3 linked regions of the Homo sapiens genome follow. The protein of the gene in region 2 interacts with the protein of the main gene of each other region in a biochemical or structural test. Each region holds a gene or a part of one and is shown on either strand. Other genes may lie near its edges.

Region 1 (7,026 bases), on a different chromosome or scaffold from region 2:
TGTAACTTATATTCTGACCCATACTTCTTCCCCTGTCTTGTCCTCTTAACATTACTTCCCACTGGTTTGATGGACCATTCTTGCGATGTGAGTGCCTGGAGCTTCCACTTTGAAATAGTGAGGGCTGTGGACTGAAGAACGAGGTTCCCGTTCCAATGAGGGGTGTCTTAGAGCTCCCTCGCCTGCTGTGCTCAGTGTCTCATGCACTTGTTTATTTTTCCTCTTGCAGAGGTGGAATTTAATGTATCAGAAGCATTTGTACCTCTCACCACCCCGAGTTCTAATCACTCATTCCACACTGGAAACGACTCTGACTCGGGGACCCTGGAGAGGAAGCGGCCTGCTAGCATGGCGGTGATGGAAGGAGACTTGGTGAAGAAGGAAAGGTATGATTTGACCGTTCACTTCCAAACCAGCAGTAAATATGTTGTTAGACCCGTGGTATCTGGTATCGCTCAGTGGACTTGGGATTTGAGAGTGGTCGCCATCCACCCATGACTGATGGTGTCCAGATAGTTTCTGGAATTCTGCTGTAGGTCATTCCAAGCACTAATCTCACCATAAAGTCAGTGTGTAGCTTCTCAGTTAACGTTTCTTCCACGTGTATTCCAGCTTAACTTGGTGGTGTGCTTGGTAAGCCCTGCAGTGGAACGGCATCATACACATGTTAAAAGTGACCCAGATGTACGTGAGTGGGGGGAAACAGAAAGGAAAATAAATTCAATAGTGTGGACTTTTGTCCAGAATTGAGTGTGAGAACACCCACCTGGCACAGTGAGTTGAGTGATTTGGCGTTTAAGGAGACATATTTCTGGTATAATGTGGCCCCACAATGGAAGCCAACCACTGAATTTGATGTTCAGTGGGAAAAACCTCAGTATTTGCCAATTCTAGAAGAAAAAAAAATGGCAGTGTTGAACTTAGTGAGAAGCAGTGTGTCTCTATATACTCTTTTCTATGGGCAATTCATGGGATTTTCAAGGGTGATTAAGACTGTTTGTAATTTGTGCCTTTGGATGCCAACCTGTCCCATGTGTGTGATGAAATGCCACTGTACTCACTAGGAATGCTAACAGTTAAGAGGCCTGTTGGAAGTAATATGCTTTTCTTGGTATATTAAATAATACTACTAGAAATAGTTTTACATTAAAACGAAGTGACAAGCTCTTATTTTAATTGCTCAGTCTTATAGTGAGGTGTGCTGTTTGTTTCTTGTTCTTTGTATTGCATTTTTTACCCCTAGCAAAGGAGAATGCATTATTCTGTCCCTATTCTGTCCTTCCAAAATCCACATTTATTCTATGCAGACGTATTACCTCTCTGAACCCTCATTCATACATTCAGTAGTATTTCCTGATGACAGACTCTACCTGTAACAAAATTAGCTTTCATATATTTTAAGTTACAGAATACAGTGCATGAGTCTAGTTAGCACGTGACAGACAATTCTCAGTTACCTGCCTTGTGTATTCTCCCTGCCAGCTGACCCAGTAAGCACGAGCTCAAGAAGCCAGGTATCTTTTTACTTTTTGAACTGAAAGAAAAAGTTGTTAAGTTCATAGATCAGTCGCCTTAAGTGAAAAGTCAGCCTTCCTTCCACCCTCTCCAGCCACATCCAGCCACCATTCCCTTCCCCAAAGCAACGGCTTTTTCCAGTCTTTTTGGTTTTTGTTTTTTTGAGACAGGGTTATGTGCCCAGGCTAGAGTGCAGTGGTATGATCATGGCTCACAGCAGCCTTGACCTCCTGGGCTCAGGCAGCCCTCCCACCTCACACACCTGACTAGCTGGGACTATAGGCACGCACCACCTCACGCAGCTAATTTTCTAAAAAAATAGTTTTTTGTAGAGACAGGGCCTCACGATGTTTCCCAAGCTGGTCTTGAATTTCCAAGCTAAAGCGATCCTCCCACCTTGTCCTCCCAAAGTGCTAAGATTACAGGTGTGAGCTACCATGCCCAGCTTTTCCAGCCTTATGTACCTTTCACATGTAGTCTGCATATGCACATAGGATTGTTTCTACATCTCATCTCAGTTAAGAGGCAGTGTGGTGTGATAACCTTACACTGCCATTGGTAGGCCTTCTGGACTTGACTTCTGTGTCATTCCCCAAAAACAGATTTGAGATGGGAACTAGGAAGTATGGAAATAGGCCGGATGTGGTGACTTATGCCTGTAATCCCAGCACTTTGAGAGACCAAGGCAGGAGGAATACTTGAGGCCAGGAGTTTGACATCAGCCTGGGCAATGTAGTGAGACCGCATCTCTACAAAAAAAAATTTTTTTTTAGTATCCCAGTATGGTGATGTGTGCCAGTAGTCCAAGCTGCTCCAGAGGCTGAGGCTGGAGGATTGTTTGAGCCCAGGAGTTTGGCACTGTAGTGAGCTATGATTGCTCCACTGGAGTGCCAAGCACTCCAGCCTGGGTGGTGGAGTGAGACCACATGTCTAAAGGGGGAAAAAAACAGCAGAGGAAGTATGGGGATAAACACACTAACATGATGTCATTCAAGATGAGGCCTGCCTATTTGCTTTTAGCTGCTCACACCCAAATTGATCAAAGACATTGAACAGTACCAGGTTCATTGGCTTTGCTCAGGCTTGAAGCCGAGTGGAGTTGCTCAGGGGTGGCCATTAGTCTGGTCCTTGCCGCTTCACTGCATGCCGGGCAGCTTGGGTGGCTATCCCCATGTGTGGTTTTAACACATGTGGACCGATGGGCTTCTGTCTCAGTAGTCTGCTCGCATGGTGTGTTGACTGTTTCTTCTCTCTGTGTAGCTTTGGTGTGAAGCTTATGGACTTCCAGGCCCACCGGCGGGGTGGCACTCTAAATAGAAAGCACATATCCCCCGCTTTCCAGCCGCCACTTCCGCCCACAGATGGCAGCACCGTGGTGCCCGCTGGCCCAGAGCCCCCTCCCCAGAGCTCTAGGGCTGAAAGCAGCTCTGGGGGTGGGACTGTCCCCTCTTCCGCGGGCATACTGGAGCAGGGGCCGAGCCCAGGCGACGGCAGGTAAGGAGGCTGACTTCTGCTGGCAGTGGAGGCTGGACGCCCCAGCCTTCTTGCAGGTGGTGGCCTTTGAGCACGGCATCCATGCCCAAAGAACTGCTCCAGCATGGAGTGAACAGATTTACTTTCACTCCTCTGGTTGGCAAAAGATGGAAAAAAAGACTATGAATGGCTCGCTTCTTTTTATGTTTTCCAAAGAAAGCAACATTGGTTTGCATTCTTTGCCACACTGCTTTGGTGCTGGAAACCGGAAGCCAGTGGATGTCTCATAGTGTGATGAGCCTCTGTCACCTGTTGGATGTATACTGTCAGCATTCATGTACCTTCTGTTCATTGTCATCCAGTGTGCTAACCAGGAAGCATTTGAGTGTGGCAAGTTAGTTAAATTTTCGTATTCCTGGCATTTATTCACCCATTCGTTGATTGATTCAGTGAAACAGATTTACTGAGTCACTGATATGTGCTAGGCACATGAGGTGACTAAGACTCCACTCCACACCCCCAGATTTCAGTCTTGTAGGGCAGTTGATCCATGAGTCCAAGGTGGAAAATAAGATGGTAGCTTTTCTTTTTTCTTTTTTTTTTTTTTTTTTCTGAGACTGCGTCTTGCTCTGTTGCCCAGGCTGGAGTGCAGTGGCATAATCGTAGCTCACTGCACCCTCCGCCTCCTAGGCCCAAGCAATCCTCCTACCTAAGCCTCCCAAGTAGCTGGGATTACAGGTGCTTGTCACCATGCCCAGCTAATTTTTTTATTTTTGTAAAGATGGGGTAAACATAGATGCCCTAGGTTGCCCAGGCTGATCTCGAACTCCTGGCCTCAAGTGATCTTCCTGCCTCAGCCTTCCAAAATGCTGGGATTACAGGCATGAGCCACCATGCCTAGCTGGTAGATTTTCTTAAAAGGCTCTTTTAGTTGCTTAACCTTTGGATAAGCCACCTGGAGTGGGCTGCAAATGGATAGCAACTTTTAAGAAAAGTCACCTTGAACTTGAGGTTTTTTTTTTTGAGACAGTCCCACTCTGTCGCCTAGGCTGGAGTGCAGTGGTGCAATCTCGGTTCACTGCAACCTCCGTCTCCCGGGTTCAAGTGATTCTCTTGCCTCAGCCTCCGGAGTAGCTGGGATTACAGGCACACACCACCATGCCAGGCTAATTTTTTTGTATTTTTAGTAAAGACAGGGTTTCGCCATGTTGGTCAGGCTGGTCTCAAACTCCTGACCTCAGGTGATCCCCCTGCCTTGGCCTCCCAAAGGCTGGCATTACAGGTGTGAGCCACCGCGCCCAGCCATAACTTGAGATTTTTATTTAATTGACATTAATTCAGTTCTCCACACTGATCCAGGCAGATGACCACCAGAGGCTACTTCAGGTGGCATCTCTTGTGGTTTGGAACTGACAGCTGCTTAGCTTTGCATACATGTGTGCCAAAATTTTTGTTGTCATATGTTCTGCATTGGCCATCCACAACACACCGAATGATCATATATGAAGTAAAATAAATGTGCACAAAACAAGGACAGGCTGTTTATCCACACGTTTATTTCCCACACAGAGAGATGAATTTGCCTTGAAAGAACTCCTTTCTCATCGTCCTTGGGATGAGCAAGGGAGAGCCTTGTTGTGTGTGAAGCTGCTCGTGAGATAGGAATCTTGTTTCACCATTAAAACTGAATGCTGAATGCTTTGTGCATTCCTGAATTCCATTTTCTTCACCTTGGGAAAGTTTACTTTGGGGTTAAAAAAAATTAAGACTTCAGACTTCTTAGGGCTTCCCGTGCACCTCATAGGCTGCACGTTAGCTTGTCAATAATTGTGCCCTATGCATGTACTTGTTTTGGTTTAAATTTTTTTGTTTGAAGGAAAAAAGTCTAAGCAAATTCACTTATTTTCTTTTTCTTGGTTTTGTTTTTTATTTTTATTTATTTTTATTTATTAATTTATTTTTTGAGACGAAGTCTCGCTCTGTTGCCCAGGCTGGAGTGCAGTGGTGCAATGTTGGCTCACTGCAACCTCTGCCTCCTGGGTTCAAATGATTCTCCTGCCTCAGCCGCCGGAGTAGCTGGGATTACAGGCATGGACCACCATGCCTGGCTAATTTTTGTATTTTCAGTAGAGATGGGGTTTCACCATGTTTGCCAGGCTGGTCGCGATGTCCTGACCTCAAGTGATCCACCTGCCTTGGCCTCCCAAAGTGCTGGGATTACAGGCGTGAGCTACTGCCCCGGCCTGTTTTTTGTTGTTTTTTTTTTTTCAGACAGGGTCTTGCTCTGTCACCCACGCTGGAGGGCAGTGGTGTGATCATGGCTCACTACAGCCTTTTAATCTCCCAGGCTCAAGCGATCTTCCCACCTCAGCCTCCCAACTGGGACTATAGTAGTGCATCCCCATGCCCAGCTAATTTTTTTAAATTTTTGTAGAGACGAGGTCTCACTGTGTTGCCCAGGCTGGTCTTCAATCCTGGTCTCAAGCAGTCCTCCCTCCCTAACCTCCCAAAGTGCTGGGATTACAGGCATGAGCCACCATGCCCAGCCAATTTACATATTTTCATTTCCTTGTGACATTCCATTTGTTTAATCAAGGCTAAATGTATTATTTAAGACAATAATTAGTCTTAATGCAGAAGGACAAATGGAATGTCAGTTACTTTGCTTTTTTTTTTTTTGAGACAGCATCTCGCTCTGTCAGCCAGGCTGGAGTGCAGTGGCATGATCTTGACTCACGGCAACCTCCACCTCCTGGGTTCAAGCGATTCTCCCACCTCAGCCTCCAGAGTAGCTGGGACTACAGGCATGCGCCACCACGCCTGGCTAATATTTGTATTTTTAGTAGAGACGGGGTTTCACCTTGTTGGCCAGGCTGGTCTTGAACTCCTGACCTCAAGTGATCCATGTGCCTCAGCCTCCCAAAGTGCTGGCGTTACAGGCGTGAGTCACTGTGCCTGGCCTGCTGTTTGTTTTTTATACTGTATTCTGTAGGTATTTTTATGTACATTACACTAATGTTATTCACTCTTTGGTGACCTTGACAAAATGGAGCTACAGAGTTTGGTATAAAAAGTTCTGGGCCAGGAAACAGGAAGCCTGAATTCTGATCTCTATCCTGCTGCTACCAACTCTGGACTTCGAGTAGTCATTTAGCCTCTGAGTTCTCCTTCTTCAGTCCAAGTTATTGATAATAATCAAGCCCTTTATCATTTAGGGTCTTATTTTGCCATGGCTTTTGCTTAGTTTTGTACAGTGTATATGTCAACATGTAAAAGCCATTTCATGGTATTAAGTACTGCCCAATTTAAGTCCAAACGCAGTAGAACTGAAAACTCCGCATTGGTTGCTTTGAAATGGTCTCTCTGATGATACTGGAGTGGCAGAGTCGTTGGAGTCCAGTCTGATGCAACGAATCTCATAAAATAAATAGTCCTATAGTCCCGGCTACTCAGGGTGCTGAGGCAGGAGAGGATTGCTTGAGTCCAGAAATTTGAGACCAACCTGGGCAACATAGCAAGACCTCATCTCTTAAAAAAAAAATGGCACCAAGTAAACATTAGCTCTTTATATGGCACCAAGTAAACATTAGCTTTATAAGCCCAGTGTGAGCTAGTTAGAATTTCAGATCCTTTTCCTGCCTGCCGAAGTGAAAACTCTGCTTGGAATCTTATGTTTTATGTGCAGTATGTTCAGATTTTCTAGCTGGGATTGTCTGACGTCTAACTTGACTTTTACTCCTCTTAGTCCTCCCAAACCGAAGGACCCTGTATCTGCAGCTGTGCCAGCACCAGGGAGAAACAACAGTCAGATAGCATCTGGCCAAAATCAGCCCCAGGCAGCTGCTGGCTCCCACCAGCTCTCCATGGGCCAACCTCACAATGCTGCAGGGCCCAGCCCGCATACACTGCGCCGAGGTAAGCAGCCACCGTCCTCCTTGCCCTCAGGGAAGCCTGTGCAGACCTCCTTAAGTTAGTGCAAGGATTCAGATGGTGAGGTTTGTGGCCAGATCTTTTCTATGTCTGTTGTAAAATCCCAAG
Region 2 (7,197 bases):
TGGGATTACAGGTGTGAACCACTGCGCCCAGCTGTTTTGTTTTTTACTTAATAATTCACATAGGGGACTTTTGTGACCAAACGTGTTGGGATTTCTTCCCACCACCAACCAAGTAATTAATTTTGTAGTGGACATCAGCTGAGTGTCCTTTAATTTAGTGTTCTTTTAATTTTTATTTTTTTTTAGAGACTGGGTCTTGCTGTCACCCTGGCCATAGTCTAATGGTGCAATCACGGCCCACTGCAGCCTCGCACTTCACCTGCCTCAGCCACCATATACCTGGAGATAGTGTCAGATATCACAAATTGAGGGCTTGGTCCTCAAGACTGCCCCCCACCCCAAGTAGGTGTCAATCTTAAGTTTTAGGTTATGTGATCTGTCTTTTTTGACGAACTGTTTATAAATCAGAAATCTCAAGTCCTCCTTTTTGGGTTTAATTTGTTACAGTGCCTCACAGAACCTAGGGAAACATGTTTATTATAAAGGATATAGATGAAGAGATATATGGAGTACGGGGGAAGGAGAGTGGAACTTCTGTGCCCTCTCTGGGCATGCCACCCTCTAGGAACTTTTTTTTTTTTTTTTTTTTTGAGATAAAGTCTCACTCTGTTGCCGGAGTACAGTGGCTGGAGTGTAGTGGCGCGATCTTAGCTCACCGCACCCTCCGCCTCCTGGGTTCAAGCGATTCTCTTGCCTCAGTCTCCCAAGCAGCTGGGATTACAGGCACCCATGACCACACTGGGCTAATTTTTTTTTTGGTGTTTTTTTTTTTTTTTTTTTTTTTTGTATTTTTAGTAGAGACAGGGCTTTCACTATGTTGGCTAGGCTGGTCTCAAACTCCTGACCTCGGATGATCTGCCTGCCTCTGCCTCCCAAAGTGCTGGGATTACAGGCGTGAGCCACCACGTCCGGCCAACTCTCTAGGGACTTTTATGTGTTTAGCTATCTGGAAGTTCTCAGAACTTTGTTTTTTGGAGTTTTAATAGAGGCTTTATTTTATGTAGTCATGATTGATTAAGCTATTGACCATTACTGAACAACTTAACTTTCAGCGCCTCTCCCCAGTCCCCGGAGGTTGGAGTGACAGTGTGGGTGCAGATAAAAGTCCCACACCTCTAATCTTGTCTTGGTCTTTATGGTGACCAGTCCCATCTTGAGGTACTAATACTTAGGGACTGTCAGCCATCAGTCATCTCATTAGTATATAAAAAGACATCATTTTGGGGTTTTTAAGGATTTTAGGAGCTATACTTCAGGAAACAAGGTTGACGACAAAATATATATTTTGTAATATCACACCAAGATCATAATTTTGTAAATCAGTGTTCCCTAGATTTTACTGAGAGGTGAAACCAGTATCTGCAACCCAGATTAACCCCCTAGATAATATCAGCGTTTACATAGAGTTTAGAGTACCCCTGGTGAAAACTGATTCCTAAGTAGGTCAGGTCACAGTAGTTTGTTAATGGGGATACTTCCTTGTCTTAGAATCACTTCCTCCTGCTCTGAAGGGAAACTGAAATGGATTTAGTTCTTCCTAAAAAATGCTGTGCTATATTTTAGCCTTTTTTCTGCTGGCTTATTTCATTTTATCTCATGGCTTCATGATCATTGGTGTCTCTCTCCTTTATTTTTTGAAGATTCTGACACTTTCAAGCATTTTCCAGTTACTGCCAAAGCTTAATGAAGTTAAAGATATTTGCAGTGTTGTATAATTAACTCACATCCATAGAGTTCTGCGGCAGCTTTTAATGGGTTCCTTCCTATAACTAACAATCTCCTGCTTACTCGTCTTAAAAAGTTTCATCTTCATGTGGTCTCTTTTTTTCTTCTGCTGTCCCTTCCTCTTCCTCTTTCTCCTCTTTAAAGCAGCAGGTTGTTTTACTTCTTGATTAGAGTATTTTCACAAGTGGTCACTGTTTTTGAGAAGTCTCCAATAACTTGGTCAAGATTAGATCATTGTATTTGACTAAAAAGTCAAGCCCTGGCAGGAAGGTGATTACTGAGGCAATGTCTTGTTAGATAAACCTGCATTGCATGTACCGTTTCCAAATTTTAGCAGACTAAACTGTGCAGCATTGTTTGAATTTCCCCCTCCAACTCACTCTGGCTATTAATCTGCCTTAGGAGATAGGTAGCTGGCCGTTCTCATTGTTATATATCTAGCAGTCTCTGGAGGAAAGAGAATTCAGACCTGGTAACTGAGAGCAAAATATTTATACAGACACAAGAATGGGGGTGGGCAGGAAGGGAGGGTTGTAACTGAAAAAAGGCAGACCAAAACAGTTTTGACAACTTAAATTTATTGTAACTGCCCAACAAAGGAAGTAGAGTTGGAGGTTTATCTGCAAGAGGTTTTTTTTTGTTTTGTTTTTTGTTTAGTAGCTCCACCTCTTAATTTATTATTATTATTCATTTTATTTTATTTTTTGAGACAGTCTCGCTCTGTCACCCAGGCTGGAGTGCAGTGGCACAATCTTGGCTCACTCCAACTTCTGCCTCCCGGGTTCAAGCGATTCTCTTGCCTCAGCCTCCTGAGTAGCTGGGATTACAGGCGCCCTGTCACCACGCCCAGCTAACTTTTGTGTTTTTAGTAGAGACGGGGTTTCTCCATGTTGGCCAGGCTGCTCTCAAACTCCTGACCTCAGATGATCCACTCACTTCTGCCTCCCAAAGTGTTGGGATTACAGGCGTGAGCCACCATGCCCGGCTTTAATTCATTATTGTTAATATTTTTGAGACAGGGTCTTGCTCTGTTGCTCAAGCTGGAGGGCAATGGCACCATCATGGCTCACTGCAACTTCAACCTTCTAGGCTCAAGCGATCCTCCTGTCTCAGTCTCCCAAGTAGCTGGGACCACAGGTGCATGCCACCATGCCCAGCTAACTTTTTTTTTTTTCTTTTTGTAGAGACAGGGTCTTGCGATGTTGCCCAGGCTGGTCTCAAATTCCTGGCCTCCAGCCATCCTCCCACCTGGGCCTCCTGATGTGCTGGGATTACAGGCGTGAGCCACCAGACCCGGGTTAGCTCCACCTTTTAATGGAGGAGAATGATAAGCAGGTTGAAAATGGTGGGGTGGGATTGGAGAAATGCATCATCGTAAAATATTTTTTAACTGGGGGCCCATGTTGGGAGTCGCACGGTTTCTCAGAAAAGGATCCAGTAGTAGCATTAACCGAGGGAGAAAGATAAGCTGTGGGGAAAGGGCTAGTGATTCAGGAGTTGGAATTCCAAACATTTTCCATAGCTTGTCAGGAACATTTGTGCAGACCTTTGGATATATAGAGAGGGAGTCCGTCTGCTGATAAAATGAGCGCTGGGTTTACCAACCTTCGGCCTTGGCCCACCCCTGATCCTCACCGCCGGGCAGTGAGATGGACACGTTATTTGCCTCCATTTGGTGGACTGCGCTCTGCGCTTCCAGAGGTGGAGCAATTGTCCGCCTCCGCCCGGCCAGCACGTGCGGGAGGCTGGATTTGAACCAAACAAGTTATCTGTGTACCCCACGCCTTTGCTTTTACCCACTAGGCGGTAACGTGATTTCACGCCTGAGAGTTTCTTGGCTGAACAAGTTGGAAATCACTGGTTTCAGAGATTGGAAATCACTGGGTGCACGCCCCTGGATTCTTTCCCTAGCCACTCGAGGCCGTCGCGCTTGCCTCGACGTCTCTATTCGCACAGCGCGCAGTTACCACCGCCCCACTCCCACCGCGCCAGCCTGCGGGACTCTCGGGCTTCCCTCGGGCGGTGGGAAAAGAGCCTCCCGGGCTGACTCTGCTCGGCGCGCATGGCTGCCAGGGGAAAGTATTGTCCTTAAATCCAGAGCGGCGATACGCGCAGGGGAGCGATCTCAGACCGCGGCGGAGCATCGGTGATCCCAGGGCCTGCCGCGTTCCAAGGCAAGCGCTAGTACTGCGAGCAGACAGTGGTCACTAAGAAGTCATTACCAGATTGGCAGGGGGAGTCCTAGGGATCCGGGTCCCGCCGTCCCTCACACCTCCCTCCGCGTCCTTCCGGACCCCAGGGCGACGCGGACCCGGCCGGGGGAGCCCGGGGGAGGGGGCCGGGCCGGGGTGGGGCGGGCGCGCGTGCGCGAGCTGTCAGACCGGCCCCGCCCCTCCCCTCCCGCCCCTCCCCCGCTCTCCGGGTGTAGGGCGGGCGGGCGCTGCGGCGGCCGCGGCTGCTGCTTCCTCGGGCCATTTTGCTGTGGAGCGGCGGGGAGGAGGAGCCGCCGAGGAGACCCCGGGCGAGGAGCTGCGAGCCGGAGGAGGCCGCGCGGACTCCGGGCTTTCCGCCGTCGCGGGGATCTCGGGGGGCAAAGGGATCGCCGGGGAGGGGGACCAGAGAGCCGCGCCCGCCGCGCGGAGCGCCCCTTCGCGTCCCCTGCACCATGAGCTGGGGCACCGAGCTCTGGGTGAGTGAGGGGCTGGGCCCGCGGGCAGATGCGGGGCGCGCGCTGCGTTTCCCCGCGGCCTGGGGAGGGGGCGCGGGCCGCGCTGCTGGGCGGAGGCGAGGGCGCGCTGGTCGGGGTCCTCGCGGCCTGGGGAGGAGGCGGGGTTCCAATGCCCCTCGTCCGCCTTGGCCCGAGCAGGAGGTGCGGGCCGGCTTGTCCTTCGGAGGCGAGGGGAGTTGGTGCGGGTCCCCGGCGGCCTGAGGAACGGCGCGGGCGGGCCTCCCTGTCCCCGGCGCCCCGGAGCGGGCCGTGTGTGTCGGGCCGAGCCCTAATCCCCCGGGGCGAGCCGCGGATGCCCGGGGAGGGCCGGGACCGGGCGTGGGGGCGTGGAGGCCCCGGCTGCGCGGCGCTGCGTTGGGTCTCGGGGCGCCCCGGCCGCGAGTTCTGTCCTGGCTCCGCGGAGGCGCTGGCGGATCGGGCACTTCCCCGGGAGCGGGGCGGCCGGGGCGAGCGCCGGGGGTCGGGTTTTGGGGTGCTGGGGCGAGAGTGCGGTCTTCGCTCTGGAGGCGAGGACTTCTGGCCCGTGGCGGCTCCGGGCGCACTTGTTCTTTCGGGGTAGCTCAATCCTGAGTGGGATGTGGGCACTGCGACGTCTGGTCTGGAGGGGAAAGTGGGAGTTAGGGAGAGATCTTACGTGATCTACCTCAGGAAGAGGCGTTCGCGGGGTCAATGATCTTTAACGGTTGCTCGGAGAATAGTTTCCAGTGGGGAAAGTTGGCGGTGAGGGGCGCCTTGCGGGGATGCTTGGCCGGGGGATGCGCACGGTAAACGGGCAGCCCTCAGGGCTGAGGGCCGTCCCCGGAAAGGCGAGGGGCTGGCTGTGGATGGAGCTCTTTTCCTGCCGTCCCCGGATTCCTGGGGAAATCACTGGGCAGGGGATGGGCAGTGCGGCGGCCCGGGAAGGAGCAGACGAAATCTCAGTTACTGCACTGAAATGCCCTCAAGATGAGCCATTTCCCAGGATGAACTCTAAAGTGCCTGAACTACCTTTTGGAATTCTATTTGCAAAGGGTGTGGAGGAGAAAGTGTAGGGTGGTGTTGCTATCTGAGATGAGGCCAAGAAATCTCATATCAAAATAAAACAAGGTTAGAGCAATTACAGAAACAGAGCACATCCTCCCTTGTTTTTTGTTTTGTTTTCTTTTGCTTTAATTGTTTTTACATAACCATTTGTTAGGTACAGAAGCAGCTACGGTTGTTATTACCAAAATCCTGAGGGCAATAGCTCCCTTAAATTAAGATAATTCATTTTATAAACATCTTCTGCCTAAAAGGGATTCATGACAAAATTTCCGCTGATGTTTACAAGTATCCATTTTGAAAATAAAATAGTTTAAAATATTTGCACACACCAGTTTAGGCAAAATCTATGACTTTGAGTACCGTATTGAAGTTTCTTTCCTCTTCTAATCCTTCCACTCCCTTTAGCTCTCTTTAGCTTATCTGGGGTGGGGAAGCAAATCAGAAGTAATCTTTGTCAAGACAGTAGAAATTGTGGCACAATTTTTTTTTCACTTGTTCAGACAGGTGGATGGAATTATGGAGGGAAAATGTACAATATATTTCTGAGTGAAATAGGGACCGAACACAATACCTTGGTGGACAGTTCAGTGATGTTGGTGAATGGGATAGAATATAATTCCAAAGAGAGGCAGTGGCTATGAGCAAAACTGCTAAAACAGCGGCAATTGCTTGCATTATTCTGTACATTTCTTTTTGAGGGTGCAGAAGTGGGAAGGAAGGCAGGGTTAGGAGTGATTGAAAATAAATGAGAGAGGCCGGGCGCAGTGGCTCAGGCCTATATTGCCAGCACCTTGGGAGGCTGAGTCGGGAGGATCTTTTGGGCCCAGGAGTTCAAGAACAGCTTGGGGAATATCTGGAGAGGCCTCCTCTTAAAAAAAAAAAAAAGAAAAGAAAAAAGAAAAAAGAAAAAAATAATAAATGGGAACTGGAATATATACAAATATTAATGATATGAAATCTTATATTTGCTTCACAATAATTTGGGTTGTTAGTAGATGGGAGATAGTGAGACAGAGTTGGCCATTATTGAAGCCAAATGCTGAGTACAGAAGTATTCATTACACTATTCTTTCTAGTATATATATTTGACATTTTCTACAATAAAAATAATTGGAAAATAGTTTTAAAGGAGAAGGATGTGAACTATTTGTAATTTTTTCACTTGACAATTTTATGAGGAAGAATGAATCAGTTAACAGTTCTATATATGCAAGTGTATGGCAATGAGGAGTTTTTAAAAAGACATTCTTTTTTTTTTTTTTTCTGAGACGGAGTCTTGCTCTGTTGCCTGCCCAGGCTGGCGTGCAGTGGCGTGATCTCGGCTCACTGCAGCCTCTGCCTCCCAGGTTCAAACGATTCTCCTGCCTCAGCCTCCCAAGTAGCTGGGACTACACGCGCCTGCCACCATGCCCAGCTAATTTTTTTGTGTATTTAGTAGAGACGGGGTTTCGCCGTGTTGGCCAGGCTGGTCTCAAACTCCTGATGTCAGGTAATCCGCCTGCCTCAGCCTCCCAAAGTGCTGGGATCGCAGGCGTGAGCCACCACGCTTGACGTTAAAAAAGACATTCTTATGAGTACCAGCATTTGCCTTTGAGTAGCTTACAGTTTAATATAGGAAAAGGAATGAACACATGATTGTGCTACTAAGAGAAATGCAAAATCTAAGTTTTCAGGTGAAATGCAAAGATGTATAAGGCTTAGTAGCTTTTGAGATTTAAAAA
Region 3 (7,026 bases), on a different chromosome or scaffold from region 2:
AGATTCAGAAGGTTTGTAACAAGAAACTATGGGAAAGATACACTCACCGGAGAAAAGAAGTTTCTGAAGAAAACCACAACCATGCCAATGAACGAATGCTATTTCATGGTAAGATTCCTCCCCACCAACTCTACCACTGTCTTCCACATTAGGATAGTTTTTTTGTTCAGATATGAAATAATAATAAGCCTGTATATTCTTTATGTCAGTATTTTAAGATAAACCTACTATTTCTGTAACTTTCACATTTATATTTTCAACTTCTTTTGAATTTGTGTATTTTATAATGGATTGTTTTTAAATAAGATTACCACAATAAAAATAGAAATGAGAGTGTTGACTATCTTTTCCTTTTTTCTTTAAATAGTAAATTTTGCTTATGGTCACTCTAGGAAATTTTGTGTTTTCCATTTAACTAGTTGATTGAATTAAAAATAAGACCTGGGAATCACCTCAGAAGAAGGTGTACATCCTATTCTGATTTTGATTCTAAGTATCAAACCCACACAATTTGAAAAGAGCCATTGTTATTGAACCTGTAGAGGTTTCTGATGACTGTAGAATTGAAACCATAGAATTGAATTGAAAGCACAATTACTTATTCTTCTTGGAATTTTCTACTTTTTTTGTATTATAAGCTGGCAGGTGTTGATTAGTCTTTCAAATTTTAGCAAAGTTAAACATATTAATGTAGTATTTATGAGGGCTTCAAGTACATTACCCATAGTAGTTCCAGTCTGTTTCTTCATTTGTCCTTGATTGCAGAAAAATTTTAGAGACCTGTAAAGTTCTCTAAAACACAGTAAATTTCATAATACCCTGGGAGAATGGCTGTAACAGAATGGATTCATGTGCAGAATCTAAACATGTTGCACTCCTTATTCCAAAACCCTAAATAATTATCATGATAATCTCTTGACACAGAGCATATTTATTTATCTGTTAATTGATGGTTATAATATGGTTTTTCTAATTTGTAATATAAATAATTTTGGTTTTCCCAAGTTAATTCAAAAAATGATTCTATTCATCTGTATTTCTGTAAAGTAGAATTCAGTATATTTTCCTGTCTGTCTGTGGAAAGGGAATGTGATCTTGATAAATGAATTAGCTGTGGTTTTTTGACTTTTTCCATCCCCCACTCTACTCCACTCCCAAGGAAAGAGGAGAGAGAAGTCAATGTGCAGGGGGTGAGGGAAAGCACCACATTTGCAGATAGAATCTTGTATCGTAATTAATGAAAGGCAGAAGTGGAAGGATAGAAGAGAAGAGGTATAAGAAAGAGAATAAGAATGTGAAAGTTGGGCCGGGTGCGGTGGCTCACGCCTGTAATCCCAACACTTTGGGAGGCCAAGGTGAGTGGATCACCTGAGGTCAGGAGTTTGAGACCAGCCTGACCAATATGTTGAAACCCTGTCTCTACTAAAAATACAAAAGTTAGCCAGGCATGGTGGTGTGCACCTATAGTCCCAGCTACTCAGGAGGCTGAGACAGGAGAATTGCTTGAACCCGGGAGGCAGAGGTTGCAGTGAGCCAAGATCATGCCACTGCACTCCAGCCTGGGCCACAGAGCGAGACTACATCTCAAAAAAATTTAAAAAAAAAAAGAATGTGAAAGTCTACTTGGGCCACTTGGTATCTTCAAAAAAGCACACAGGCATAGGCATCATTCTAAGACCTAATTGCATTTAGCTTTGCTATCTAAAGTGAATTATGAGCCTCTTGGTTTTAGATTTTTATGGATTTGCAGTCTGGCATTTGGTAACTCTTACACTGATATTTCAAGTACTCTGTTTTTCTAGTTCAATCTGTGTCCTTATTTTAGCACATAAACCAGCACTCTGTTAGAAACATTAGTTGATGTTAGCAGTTCTTTATTCTAAAATAGCTGGCTGACAGTTAACTTGTTACCCTTTTTCGTTTTGGCTTTATTATGGTTGGGCTATATATTTAAGAATTCAGTTTCTAAGAAACTAGTTTTTTACTTTTTATTCTAAGATAAATTTTAAATTATTGTTACCCATCTATATGTGTTTCAGGGTCTCCTTTTGTGAATGCAATTATCCACAAAGGCTTTGATGAAAGGCATGCGTACATAGGTGGTATGTTTGGAGCTGGCATTTATTTTGCTGAAAACTCTTCCAAAAGCAATCAATATGTATATGGAATTGGAGGAGGTACTGGGTGTCCAGTTCACAAAGACAGATCTTGTTACATTTGCCACAGGTAAGAGATCACTTGTTCTCATTTATTTTGGTGGTAATCAGATAAGAACTAGTTGCATTTTTGAGGGCAAAGCATTATGTTGGACAGTCTTAGGAATGCAAGCTAGGCATGTTTTAGATTGCTTTTGGCCCTCTCACCAATTGTAATAATAGCTAATATTTATTAAATGATCCGTATGGGCCAATTATAATTTAAGCACTTGACCTGTTTGGCTAATTTAATCATTAGAATATCTGGTGCCTTAAAGCATACTGAGTAGAAAGTAACATTAGGCATGAAAGAGGCTTTATTGTAGCCCTTGAGTATTGTAGGACTCTGTGGACTCTAAAAATCTAGTATTCAAATGCTAAAATGGCATTATTTGTCAAATCTAATTATTTGATGGCAGTGCCTGAGCCTCTCTTCCACTGTGATACGATCCTAATCCTCAATTTGCAATATTACTATAAGAACTTGAAATTAAAACATTGATCCTTTTTGAAAGGAAATAATAATCAAATAACTACTTTGCACTTTTTTTTTCCACTTTTAATTACCTGTTCTAACTCACTTGTTAAAAATCATTTAAGTAACTTGTCCCTAACTTATAAAATCCTTATAGGCAAAAAGTAATGCCACTTGAAAAATCCAGTAAGATTAATTCCTGAGATTTATTCGACAGTTAGGGCACTGCTTATTGAATATACAGAGCAGTAGTTTATCAAGCATTAGCATGCATTAGAGTCACCTAGATGGCTTGTTTAAATCACAGATTCTTAGGCTCCACCTTCTCAGTTGCTGATTTAGTAGATCTGGGATGAGACTCTAGAATTTGAGTTTCTACCAAGTTCCCAGATGTGACACTGTATTTCTGACCACTGATCTAGAAAAAAACCCCTAGAGCAGTACTTTGCACTTTGGCAGCACATTGGAATCACCCAGGGAATATTAAAAAACTATTAATGCCTGTGTCCCACCCTCACAGAATCTCTTTTAATTGGTCTGGGGCATGATCTGGATATTAGAATTTTTAAAAGCTTCCCAGTTGATTTCAAAGGGCTTCCGAGCTGAAGAATTGCAGTCATGGAGGGAAACAGGTTCTTTCTTTGTGTTTGTTTTGTTCTTACTGTTACCCCTCTAAATTTAGGCCTGCATAGGTAGTACACAGTAGGCCCTCCTATGTATGACGTCCCACTCACTTCTATTTTAGATCATAAATTGGAGTGGTTAGGAGGCATGTAATTTCCTGTAAATTGAACACTGCTGTTTTTATTTGTCATATATGGTCTGAAGGCTAAATAGTTCTGATTATTAGTAATAAGCAGCATTCTAATACCTCCCTCTTCTTTGGAAGATAGAACCATCAACTGGTCTACAGAAATCTCCTGTTATCTTCTAAAAAGAAACAATGACGTTAATACTAAAAGGTTGTTTGAAACTAAGAAAGGCTAGTCACATGCCTGAGAGGAGTGAGAGGGTAATCTACTGAAACTGGTGGTGAGGGGAGACTACCAGTTTACTTCCTATCTAAGGAAGTAACATTTCAGCTGAAGTCTGAAAATTGAGTGGGTATCAGCCAGTGGAAGAGTGGTAAAATAGATAACATTCCAATGGTGGAGAAAATTCTGTGGATGGGGACCATTAATAAAGCAAGTTTGGCCTTTGTGAAGAAAAGAAAACTAATGTGCATGGGGCATAATGAACATAAAATGAGATTCAAGAAATTGGAGCCATTGTACAGAATTTGGATTTTCTCCCAAGTACAGTGACAGCCTCTAAAAGGTTTTAAGCAGAAAAGTGACTTGATCTAATTTTTGTTTGTTTTAATTAGTTGGATGGGAAAGGTTTGGACAGGAATTACAGAAGAAACAGGAAGACTGGTTTAGAAAGCCATTGTGTGATAGTCCAGGTGAATATTTCAGTGATTTGACTTAATAGTGACAGTAGAATTAAGAAAAGTAAATGGATTTCAAATATATTTTGAAGGTAAAATCAACTGGAGTTAATTAGATATGTGTCCAACTTTGCAAGCCACTTAATGGAAGTCCACTAAACCTTCTCCTTCCCACTTGGCCAGTGACTTTTGTTTTTTGCTGAGATACAAACAAGGTGGTAGAGTCTGTATCTCTATAAGGTTATTACATTTTTCAGATTTTATAGTTAAAATAAGGACTAACTAAATTGACAAATTATTTCATTAATAAGAGTAATAGAAGACATTCTTAAAAAGTTCTTTTAGGGGTGAAATGATAAAAACAATTATAAGTATTTATGTATAAATAATTTTTTAAAACTTATGCCGTGTCCACACATTGTCATATTTATGTATCAAATTTGACTTCAGGGTGATCTTTTCCTTTTCGTTTTATAGGCAGCTGCTCTTTTGCCGGGTAACCTTGGGAAAGTCTTTCCTGCAGTTCAGTGCAATGAAAATGGCACATTCTCCTCCAGGTCATCACTCAGTCACTGGTAGGCCCAGTGTAAATGGCCTAGCATTAGCTGAATATGTTATTTACAGAGGAGAACAGGTAATGTAGTTTTATTTGTTCATCTTCAAAAATGCTAGGGAGGCATACTTTAACTTTTTATTAATCTCTTGAATTGACAAGACATATTGCCTTAACTGGATTTTTTAAAAATTTTATTTGGAGATAATTTCAGATTTGGAAAGTTACAAAAATAGTAAAGAGAATTTTCTTATAACCTTTACCTAGATTTCCTAAATGTTAATATTTTGTTCTCTTTTTTACTCTTACCATTCTCTCCTTCTTTCCTTGTGTGTGTACCTATTTTTTTGTGAACTGTTTGAGAGTAAGTTGCAGGGCATGTCCCTTTACCATTAACTATTTCAATTGTAAATTTCCTAAAAACAAGAAGATTTTATTCAAATTTCGCCAGTCGTTCCGGATTTTTCTTAGCTCTTATAAATAATTGAAATCTTGTATTTAACAGCCTGTCCATAGCAAAGAAGTATATAACTGTGTTTTGCTCTCAGTGAGAGCCAAAAGTAGTTCTAGAGCAGTGTTGTGAACTGGGAGTAGGTATCGGAATCACCGCAGTTACTAAAATCAGACATGATTTTAGTCTTATCTGATACTTATGAACTTAGTATTCATCTTAGACTTGCTGATTGAAAATCTGAAGAACTGTACTCAGGGTAAAGATGTTTTGAGAAAATGTCCCTAGATGATTCTGATCTACAACAGTAATTTAGAACCTCCTCCCTAAGATTAGGAATACTTCCGGAAAGTCTGTTTATCTTTCAAGAAAATTTTTGTACCATTATTTGAATTTATCTTTCTCTTCCAGGCTTATCCTGAGTATTTAATTACTTACCAGATTATGAGGCCTGAAGGTATGGTCGATGGATAAATAGTTATTTTAAGAAACTAATTCCACTGAACCTAAAATCATCAAAGCAGCAGTGGCCTCTACGTTTTACTCCTTTGCTGAAAAAAAATCATCTTGCCCACAGGCCTGTGGCAAAAGGATAAAAATGTGAACGAAGTTTAACATTCTGACTTGATAAAGCTTTAATAATGTACAGTGTTTTCTAAATATTTCCTGTTTTTTCAGCACTTTAACAGATGCCATTCCAGGTTAAACTGGGTTGTCTGTACTAAATTATAAACAGAGTTAACTTGAACCTTTTATATGTTATGCATTGATTCTAACAAACTGTAATGCCCTCAACAGAACTAATTTTACTAATACAATACTGTGTTCTTTAAAACACAGCATTTACACTGAATACAATTTCATTTGTAAAACTGTAAATAAGAGCTTTTGTACTAGCCCAGTATTTATTTACATTGCTTTGTAATATAAATCTGTTTTAGAACTGCAGCGGTTTACAAAATTTTTTCATATGTATTGTTCATCTATACTTCATCTTACATCGTCATGATTGAGTGATCTTTACATTTGATTCCAGAGGCTATGTTCAGTTGTTAGTTGGGAAAGATTGAGTTATCAGATTTAATTTGCCGATGGGAGCCTTTATCTGTCATTAGAAATCTTTCTCATTTAAGAACTTATGAATATGCTGAAGATTTAATTTGTGATACCTTTGTATGTATGAGACACATTCCAAAGAGCTCTAACTATGATAGGTCCTGATTACTAAAGAAGCTTCTTTACTGGCCTCAATTTCTAGCTTTCATGTTGGAAAATTTTCTGCAGTCCTTCTGTGAAAATTAGAGCAAAGTGCTCCTGTTTTTTAGAGAAACTAAATCTTGCTGTTGAACAATTATTGTGTTCTTTTCATGGAACATAAGTAGGATGTTACATTTCCAGGGTGGGAAGGGTAATCCTAAATCATTTCCCAATCTATTCTAATTACCTTAAATCTAAAGGGGAAAAAAAAAATCACAAACAGGACTGGGTAGTTTTTTATCCTAAGTATATTTTTTCCTGTTCTTTTTACTTGGTTTTATTGCTGTATTTATAGCCAATCTATACATCATGGGTAAACTTAACCCAGAACTATAAAATGTAGTTGTCTCAGTCCCCTCCAGGCCTCCTGAATGGGCAAGTGCAGTGAAACAGGTGCTTCTTGCTCCTGGGTTTTCTCTCCATGATGTTATGCCCAATTGGAAATATGCTGTCAGTTTGTGCACCATATGGTGACCACGCCTGTGCTCAGTTTGGCAGCTATAGAAGGAAATGCTGTCCCATAAAATGCCATTCCTATTTTCTAATATAAAACTCTTTTCCAGGAAGCATGCTTAAGCATCTTGTTACAGAGACATACATCCATTATGGCTTGGCAATCTCTTTTATTTGTTGACTCTAGCTCCCTTCAAAGTCGAGGAAAGATCT

Evidence for each region. Proteins that work in one complex are often made in the same cells at the same time.
Region 1: the proteins of FNBP1 (region 2) and ARHGAP17 form a complex in vitro, tested with the Homo sapiens proteins (one study listed by BioGRID).
Region 3: the proteins of FNBP1 (region 2) and TNKS2 interact in a biophysical measurement, tested with the Homo sapiens proteins (one study listed by IntAct).

What each region holds. Positions count from the first base shown.
Region 1 is NC_000016.10:24,935,347-24,942,372, reverse strand, and holds part of ARHGAP17 (rho GTPase-activating protein 17), read left to right. Parts: intron 1-229; coding exon 230-386; intron 387-2,775; coding exon 2,776-3,009; intron 3,010-6,733; coding exon 6,734-6,903; intron 6,904-7,026. UniProt on the Homo sapiens protein: Rho GTPase-activating protein involved in the maintenance of tight junction by regulating the activity of CDC42, thereby playing a central role in apical polarity of epithelial cells.
Region 2 is NC_000009.12:130,040,169-130,047,365, reverse strand, and holds the start of FNBP1 (formin-binding protein 1), read left to right. Parts: upstream 1-4,176; 5' UTR 4,177-4,390; coding exon 4,391-4,414; intron 4,415-7,197. UniProt on the Homo sapiens protein: May act as a link between RND2 signaling and regulation of the actin cytoskeleton. Required to coordinate membrane tubulation with reorganization of the actin cytoskeleton during the late stage of clathrin-mediated endocytosis.
Region 3 is NC_000010.11:91,857,423-91,864,448, forward strand, and holds part of TNKS2 (poly [ADP-ribose] polymerase tankyrase-2), read left to right. Parts: intron 1-2; coding exon 3-108; intron 109-2,039; coding exon 2,040-2,226; intron 2,227-4,576; coding exon 4,577-4,733; intron 4,734-5,514; coding exon 5,515-5,577; 3' UTR 5,578-7,026. UniProt on the Homo sapiens protein: Poly-ADP-ribosyltransferase involved in various processes such as Wnt signaling pathway, telomere length and vesicle trafficking.